2 separate regions of the Homo sapiens genome follow, and region 1 is linked to region 2. A link means that fine-mapping ties the variant in region 2 to the plasma level of a protein whose gene starts in the linked region. Region 2 holds a variant in brackets. A gene starts in the other region. All regions are shown on their reverse strands.

Region 1 (4,397 bases), not on the chromosome of region 2:
ATGAGTTGGACTAGAAACTCCACGGGAGGTTTAATATTTTTAATCTAAGAAGGTCAAGAAGTAATTTTTTAACCTCTTGCCAACTCATCTCAGTTTTAACTTTTATTTCAGTGCTTCCTTTTACAAATTGTTACATAATAATGACATCTTTTTGTGAAATATGTGGTATTCCCACCCACCTGGGCATGGAAAGGCCCTAAGAGGTCAGCAAGCAGTTAGAGAAGCTGGTGTTTACCGGAAACTCAGGAGAACCAGCCAACCACAACCCCTGGGTTACCTTGGCAATTGCAGAATAAATGCATTATAGTTACTAAAGTAAAAAATTAGATATGCCTGTTTGCAGATTGAACTATAAAAATACCATTCAAAGACAAATAGATCTAAAAATAAAATGGAAAAACATAAACACTAATTCTGTAAATATTATACTTAATGCACAACTGAAACAAAATTTGCCAGCTTACTCAATATCAAAATCTATGAACAGTTTTTCTATTTTATATAATTTCCCTCTCCTCTCTCTGGATCTCGCTCCCCAGCTCATTTTTTCTTTTTTTTGCTCTGATTCTTTATACACCTCTGTTGCCTCTGTGATAAGCAGCTTCAAAGATGGTTCCTAATGCTTTATTGGATAGAATACAACAAAAGCGATGAGGTGTTGCTTCCCCAATTACATTACGAAGCATCCGTGGCTTCCATCTCCAGTGGGTTCACTTGCTGTCTGGCTCTAAGGGAATCCAGATACCATAATGCGGGCTGCCCTATGGTGAGGTTTGCATCACTAGGAACTCATGTCTCTGGGCAACAACCAATGAGGTCTTGATCCCTGCCGTCAGCCACATGAGGGAGCTTGGAGCTCGGAAGTGAATCCTCCTGGAGTCAAGCCTTGATATAGCTAGCCCTGGCAGCTGCTTGACTGCAGCCTTGTGAAAGAGACCTTGGGCCAGAGGCACCAGCTAAACTGCCCCTGGATTCCTGACCCAGAGAAAGTGGGAGATGATGTATTTTTGCTTTTTGAAGCTGCTGAATTTGGGGATAATTTGTTATATAGCAATAGAAAATGAGTAACTCTTTTGTATTCCTCTTTGTCCTGGCTTCCCCATTTTGAGGAAAATAAAGTAAATCAAAGTGTAGAGCTGAAATATTCACATGAAAATAATAATAAAGTTTTAAAATTATTTGAATGTCTTGTGTTGACATTCCAAAATATATGAATTCCAAAAATTTATATGTTGAAGTCCTAACTGTCAGTATCTTAGAATGTAACTTTTTTGGAAAAGGGGTCATTTCAGATCTAATTAGTTAAGATGAAGTTATACTGGAGTACAGTGGGCACTAAATCGAATTGGTCCTATGATTGAGTCTCAGTCTTTCAGTGAGCCTGTACCCCTGGGTTTATGACCTTCAGTTGGCTTTTTTCTTCTGCCCTTATTTGGCATAAAAACAAAGCAGGTGGATCACCTGAGGTCAGCAATTTGAGACCAGCCTGCCCAACACGGCGAAACCCTATCTCTACTAAAAATACAAAAAATTAGCCTGGCGTGGTGGCGGGCGCCTGTAATCCCAGCTACTTGGGAGGCTGAGGCAGGAGAATCACATGAACCCGAGAGGCGGAGGTTGCAGTGAGCCGAGATTTCGCCACTGCACTCTAGCCTGGGTGACAAGAGTGAAACTCCATCTCAAACAACAACAACAATAAACAAACAACAACGATGACAAAAAAAGCTAGAGCTGGGATTTTCCCTTTCCCTGTGTTAAAGATTAGAGTGGTGTCCTCACAAAAAGGGAAAACTTGGATACAGGCACACACATGGGGAGAATAGCATATGAAGAGACACAGGGAGAAGGCAGCCATCTATGGGTCAAGGAGAGAGGCCTGGAACACATCTTTCCTTCACCGCCCTCAGGAGGAACCAACTCTGCTGACACCTTCATCTGGGACTCCCACCCTCCAGAACTGCAAAGCAATAAATTTTTTATTTTTTACACCACCCAGTTTATTGTATTTTGTTAGGCAGCCCTAGCGAACTAATGTACATAGAGTTCTTGAGTTAATCTTCACAAATTACTGCAATAAGGTAGGGTCTTTTGTTATGTAACAATGCTATGAAATCATAGCGTTTTCTTAATTAACTTCCGTAGTTTAAGGTACTAAGTTCTGGACACCACGTGTCTTCTTTCTATAAATACCAGGACATGCTCTGTTTTTCAGCACTCATTGGACTTCAGCATGACTACTCAGTTGCCAGCTTACGTGGCAATTTTGCTTTTCTATGTCTCAAGAGCCAGCTGCCAGGACACTTTCACTGCAGCTGTTTATGAGCATGCAGCGATATTGCCCAATGCCACCCTAACACCAGTGTCTCGTGAGGAGGCTTTGGCATTAATGAATCGGAATCTGGACATTTTGGAAGGAGCGATCACATCAGCAGCAGATCAGGTACCATCTCTACCATCTCTCCAGTGTACTGGATTCTATGAGAAAGGAGGGGGTCCTAGGAGACAGGGCCACTGTCAGGGTCAGTTACACTTTTAGATGATATATGTATCAGAGTAGCCAAGAACCTTTATTTTACAGTTAGAATTCTACTTTCCTCTCAAAATTAGAGCAAGGACTTCCCTAAAAGTAAGAACAAAGTTAAGAAAAGAACAATTTGCTCATTATCAAGAAGCAGCAGACCTTTGAGGAACTGGCCATAAATTCAACATCTTTGTTCCCCTTTTCTGGTACAGATGGAGGATGGAGGATAAATGGGTCAGGGACTAGGTGCTATTTTCAGAGTATTAGTGGCCTTCATGTACTCATGTGCTATTAAGGCTTTGCAGGTTTTCGAATAAATTTATAATCTGAAAACAAATTTAAGTTTTCAATTCCTTGCCAGCATGCATTATATACTTCACACTTCATTCTAATTACAAGATAAAAGTATATGTAATGCATTGTGAGTCCTTAAGTTTAGTGAAGGTTTCAGTTTGAAGTTAATCATACAGTATAAATTGTGGTTTACACAAATATTATTTTAAAAGCTATTGATCGATTAGGTGTAGACCAGGAATACATGAAGTGTGATAAAAGTCATGGATAAATGTGTATTACATATATCTATAAATATATATTCTTTTGTGTTGTTGAGTTAAGGTCTCACTCTGTCACCCAGGATGGAGTATAGTGGTGTGATCACGTCTCACTGCAGCCTTGACTTCCCGGGCTCAGGTGATTCTCCCACTACAGTCTCCAGAGTAGCTGGGACCACAGATGCATGCCACCGTGCCCAGCTAAGTTTTGTATTTTTTGTAGAGATGGGATTTTGCCATGTTGCCCACGCTGTACTTGAACTCCTGACCTCAGGTGATCCACCTGCCTTGGGCTCCCAAAGTGCTGGGATTACAGGCATGAGCTACCGTGACTGCCCTATATTCTTATATATACTAATATTTAAAAGGTTATCAGGAGTTCTGATGTTCTTTTTCATCCTTAGTCCAACTATTTCCTTGAAGGTCACAGAGCTTTTTAAGGTGACTCTCTAATTGGAAGGTGCCCAGGTTAGCTCAGGCAGTACTTGTAGGCATGGGACAGTTCAAGTAACCAGTTTGTGGCTCCTCTTTTTCTGAGAAGCAGGAATCATGTTTGCAGGGGAAAGCTAGGGCAGAGGAGGAAATAAACAGAATATTTAAGTTATTAATCAGTCTTGACACAGGCACAGTCATCAGCGAAAGTTCAAGGAGAGGCTTGGTTCCAGGATAAGCTAGGTTTATAGTTAACGACTGCCATAGGAAACAACAATGGCAGGATTAGAAAATTAAAATGCTTGACTAAGCCAGGTGCGGTGGCTCATGTCTGTAATTCCAACACTTTGGGAGGCTGAAGCAGGCGGATCACCTGAGGTTGGGAGTTCAAGACCATCCTGACCAATATGGAGAAACCCCATCTCTACTAAAAATACAAAAATTAGCCAGGCGTGGTGGCAGATGCCTGTGATCCTAGCTACTTATGAGGCTGAGGCGGGAGAATCGCTTGAACCCGGGAGGTGGAGATTGTGGTAAGCCGAGATCTAGCCATTGCACTCCAGCCTGGGCAGCAGAGCGAAACTCCATCTGAAAAAAAAAAAAAAGAGAGAAAAAAAAATGCTTGACTAGAAGCCCAAACCTCACCATTATGTAACATATCCATGCAACAAACCTGCATTTGTACCCTTTGAATCTAAAATTAGAAATAAAGAAAAGAAAAGAAAAAGAAAAAGAAGTGACAGTGCACTGAAAAAAAAGGAAATTAAAATGCTTTGGAAAAGAAAATAAATTATAAAAATATAGAAAACAAAATAAGATTTAAGGGGTGTGGGGGAAGCCCAAATAGTTGTTACTCAGCCACTCAGCTCCTCAGCTCCTCTTGCAGGCCC
Region 2 (4,397 bases):
GTGTAGGGAAAAGCAAGGGTAGAGCCCGTGGCTGTGGTTGCGGGTTTGGGCTGAGAGGATGGGGGCTGCCTTGCTGTGACAACTTTGGAAACAATATTGAGCTCTGGAAGGTAACACAGTCCATAAATAGCAACGAGATCAACCTGGCTAACACTATTTTGGAAGCTGAGAAAATAAATGACAGCAAACTGCCAGGCAAACAGTTCTTCCATAAAACATGAAGAAATGCTTCCCTAAAAGTATCGCTTTTAAACATAAAACAAAAAGCAAATAGTGGCATCAAAATATAAGGAAAGGTGACCCACCTGTGATCTCACTCTGTTTTCTTTGCCCGCTCTTTCCTTTCAGCTTTTGTTCAAATGCATGCAGCATCTTACGTAGTTTTGGAGATCATAAACAACATTTTGTGTTCTGTATTATGTAACGACTAATTTCCATGCTGCCTTGTCATCTTCTTAACTATCTTTATCAGTATGCCATCCTTCAAATTAAGTATGCTATATTTACTTAGTACATAATTAAGATCTGATTTTAAATTTGAGACTGCGAAGTGAGAAGGAATCTTAGGAAATCACTGAGTCCAAGGAAAATGAACTTAGAGAGGAGAGTGTCTTCCCCCAGGGCCACAAAACTGGTTAATTCTGGACCCGGGACTCCATGTCATTCATTTTTTTTTCAAGTGTATGTTTATAATTACCCACCCGATGCCACATATCAGTGCACAGGTTTCATCTCACTTCATGACTCTTTCCACCACATCGTGTGCCCTAATTAACATTTGTTAGATAGAAGTCATTTCTTGTTTTTCTTAACAGAGGTAAGAGTGCTATTTCAACTCACTGTCATGAAAATAAAGGTTGTGGAGCTGAAATGAATAACAGCAATTTTAAACCAGACTGGTTTCGTGACTGGTAGATAAGTCAGCATGCAAAGACATTTATGTCTCCCAGGTTTGGCTGGCTTTCGCAATGCCCTTTGCAAACTCCACAGGGATTTTAAGCTTTAAGTCTGGTTATAAGCTTATGCAAGCTGTTAGTCACCTTTTTAGATGAAAAGCATCACAGGCTTATGCTCGAAAATGTTGTGTGCTTTGCTAGAATTCCTTTTGAGTAATTCAGCTATAGTATGATTTTGAGGGAGAAATGATGGAACAGATACATTTCAAAACACATTTGCATTTAAAAACAGGAGTTTATCAGCTGAAAGAACTTATCTTGAAAGGTACACATGCAGGGCAAATTTAGAACAAGCAGAACAATTTAGACATGATAGCTATGAATTATCCAAAAGCTTAAAATACTGAGGGCACTTGATCGTGCAGAATCCCAGACATGGGTTGAATCATGAATGTCTGGTGTTTTACTTTGGAAAACATATTGGAAAAGGAAATCTTGTCACTGCCATATTTTCACAGATCTTTCCAAAACATTCTAGGTGTGCATCCACACAATTGTCAACACATGTTTGACCAGAAACAAACAAGTGGAGTGACCTAAGCCTTTGGTACAGCGAAGAAGGCTCTGGAGTCAGGATGCTTGGGTTGGTATCTAGGTTCTGTCACTTACTAGATATGTGAACTTGGCTGGATCTCAGCTTCCTCATCTGCAAAATGAGAAAATCATTTTGAATGGATAGAATTGTTGAATTAAACTAATGACATTAAATCATGTAATGTAGCACCTCTCAAACTCTAACAAGCACACAAGTCACCTGGGATCACATTAAAACGCAGGTTCTTAGTCAGTAGGTCTAGGGAGTAAGCTGACATTCTGTATTTCTAACAAGCTCTGGGTGATGCCTGCTGGTCTCCAGGCCACACTTGGAGTTATGAGGATGCAAAGTGCCTGCTATGTGAGAAACATTCGATAGTGTTAGTTATTGCTATCCTTCAGGTGGATTTCTCCCTCTTTTTCTTTCCTACCACACCCCCAATGCTCTCGCCCACCT[A/G]ATCGTCTTCCTTCTTTCCTTCTGCTTTCAAGAAGGCTTCCAGATCTTTCTGCTCTAGCTACACCTTGACAGGCGCTCATGATTGACTGCACATGAACTTACAGCATGTGTGTGTGAGGGAGACGGTGGAGATGCTGCCGTGGCCATACTCAGATTTGGAAAGGTCAGTTCCACTTCCATCATGCCACACACTATGACTTATACTTGTGAATTAAAAACAACTCAGTCTTTTCTGGGTTAAAATGGCCTTTGTAGCAATTAGTCAATTTGAAGTTCAGACTCCCTGTGGGTGATTTCAGAGGGTCTCCCCTCCCTCTGACATTCCTCAGTGCCTTCAAACAAGAGAAGCTTCTGCATCCTCTCTGCTTCAGGGAGAGGTTCCTGGTGAGAGTGCTGTGTGTCCCAGCTTCCTCTGACCTCCAGCGGGACTCTTTCTGGCCATGGCCTCTGTCCTTGTGCACCTGCTACTGACACATTCATGGTGGGGTCCCCTGGGTGTGCTCTTTTAGCACCTTCCGGGCTTGGTGGCTTCCTTGTTGATGTGATGTCCATCTCTGACCTCAATGGCCTTATAGAACCTCTGGCAATCAACTGTGTCACTTGGCGACTCACAATGGCCACTCAAGCCCAGCCCCTTGCTCTCAACTCTGTATCCCTCACTAGCACATTTGAGAACTCCAGACACTTCCACACCACCTGTGAACAGAGATGTTCTGGACCCCTGCTGTGGCCCTCTTCTCTCACACACACCACCCTGTCATTCTGACCTGCTGTGGCTGCCTTGTGTGGTTGGCGTAGGGCAGCATGAGATGGCCAAACAAGAAGCACTGTGGATCCTCCTTGGTGTTCGTCTTTCCCTTCATCCTACCCCAGATTTCCATCTGTCCTTACTCCCTGCCCTGAGTGAGGCTCGGAGGCAGGGCAGGGAGGTCTCTGGAAGCTCCTTCTTCCCATTTCACCCTCTCCGGTCCTCTTCACTTTCTCTGAAGAAGGGCTGCTACTTACCCTTCTGTCTGCTGGAAATTGCCCTACATTATATCTTTCTTCCTTACCCCATAGTCTCCTTTTTCTAGGGAGATCCAGCTGCCCCTTCCCTGAGGCAATAAGTCTCATGCCCTAACCGTAATGGTGGAAAGGAAAGAATTTTGCTTATCGAGAAGGGAAATTAGATTTAAAATGTTTTAAAAATCTTATCCTAAACTATATATAGCTGCTGCATATACAATACACATGAAAAGTGGGCCTCCTTTGCTCTTTCCTTTTGTCCTTAGCATCACTAATCGATCACATTTCATAGCCTCGGAAACCTCCACATAGTGGTCCAGTCATCCAGTAACAATCGACAGGAGCTCACCTTGGAGATGGAAACTCTTTCTATCACTGGTATGGAGTCAAGCCTGCAGAAGGCAAAGCAAATAAGCTGAATCTACCCCTTATGTCCAAATAGGCAATGGAAGTTTTAAATTTGGGAACTATATAATTGGAAATGGCTTTAATGTTTGAAATAATTACTACATCCCTGCAAAATGGTCATGCAGCCTCTGCTTGCATAACTCTAATGATGGGAAACTCACTACTCCTTGACAGGGGATTATATTTTTAGACTATTCTAAGTAGCAGAAAAACATTTGGTATGTTGCACTGAAACCTGCTCTCTGCAACTTGCTCCTACACATAGCATATTTAATTCCTGTCCACACTGTCAGCCCTGCAGATATTTGAAGGCAGCCACTCTGGGCCCTATTAGCTTCTCCTTTCTAGGTTCAGTCTACCCAGTCCTTTTCAGTGGCCGAGCCTCCAGCCCCATTCACCATTAAGGATCCTCTCAATCCTTTCCCGTTTAATGAGCCGTTAAAAGTCAGGGAGGTAACTTTGACGGAGGAACCACCCACCTCATTTTTTTTAAAACTGGAAATAAATTGCACATAAAGGTGCTGATTGCTCAGAAGTGTAAAAGTGCCTGCCTTCTGCAGACTGACACTGTGTTCTCAGAATCTGTGGGTCATCCTGCTGTGTACATTGCATTTTTTCTCTCCCTACAACGCACACACACACACACACACACACACTCACACACACCCACACCCACCCTAGTGGGAATCATTTCTCAGCTGGCTACTCAAAGCAGCAGCCTGCACATGCTTGCTTTATTGCTTCCTTGTCCAAACTACAGATTTAACAAGGAGGTTGCAGGGGAAAATGTTTTCAGCTTGAATAGTGACATTGAAATCCTTGAGTTTTGAGAGATCTGTGAAAACAGGCTATTGAAAAGAGTTGGGAAAGTCCTGAAAGGGGCTTGCTAATGTTGGTGATACCCCACAATGAAGAGCTCAGAAGCAAAAGTTTTTTTTTGATCTTCTGCTCTCCTGTCTCTTAGTCTCCTTCTCCACCAAGGCTAGATATAGAAACTAGCTTCTTCCCCAAGGCAGGTCCTAGAAACCAGAACCCCC

Alleles and levels. Alleles are on the strand shown, and positions count from the first base shown. The strength of an association depends on the size of the effect and on how common the allele is.
For the plasma level of the protein whose gene starts at base 2,211 in region 1, allele A in region 2 goes with a lower level than allele G (weak association).

What was found. PIP is the chance, under the fine-mapping model, that this variant and not a neighbour inherited with it causes the effect. Protein levels are from antibody-based Olink assays in UK Biobank. Linkage for the fine-mapping came from a reference panel and not from the study's own genotypes, which makes the PIPs less certain.
Region 1: VNN1 starts here. The variant in region 2 is fine-mapped to the plasma level of the VNN1 protein (UK Biobank, PIP 0.97).

The regions. Positions count from the first base shown.
Region 1 is chr6:132,711,869-132,716,265 of GRCh38, reverse strand. It overlaps VNN1 (vanin 1), which reads left to right and starts at 2,211. Exons shown (of 7, transcript NM_004666.3): 1 at 2,211-2,440. The coding sequence starts at 2,231.
Region 2 is chr15:58,392,955-58,397,351 of GRCh38, reverse strand. No RefSeq gene overlaps it. Among named protein-coding and RNA genes, the nearest start is that of LIPC, 37 kb to the left of the region's middle. The variant A/G (reference allele first, on the strand shown) is at 1,948.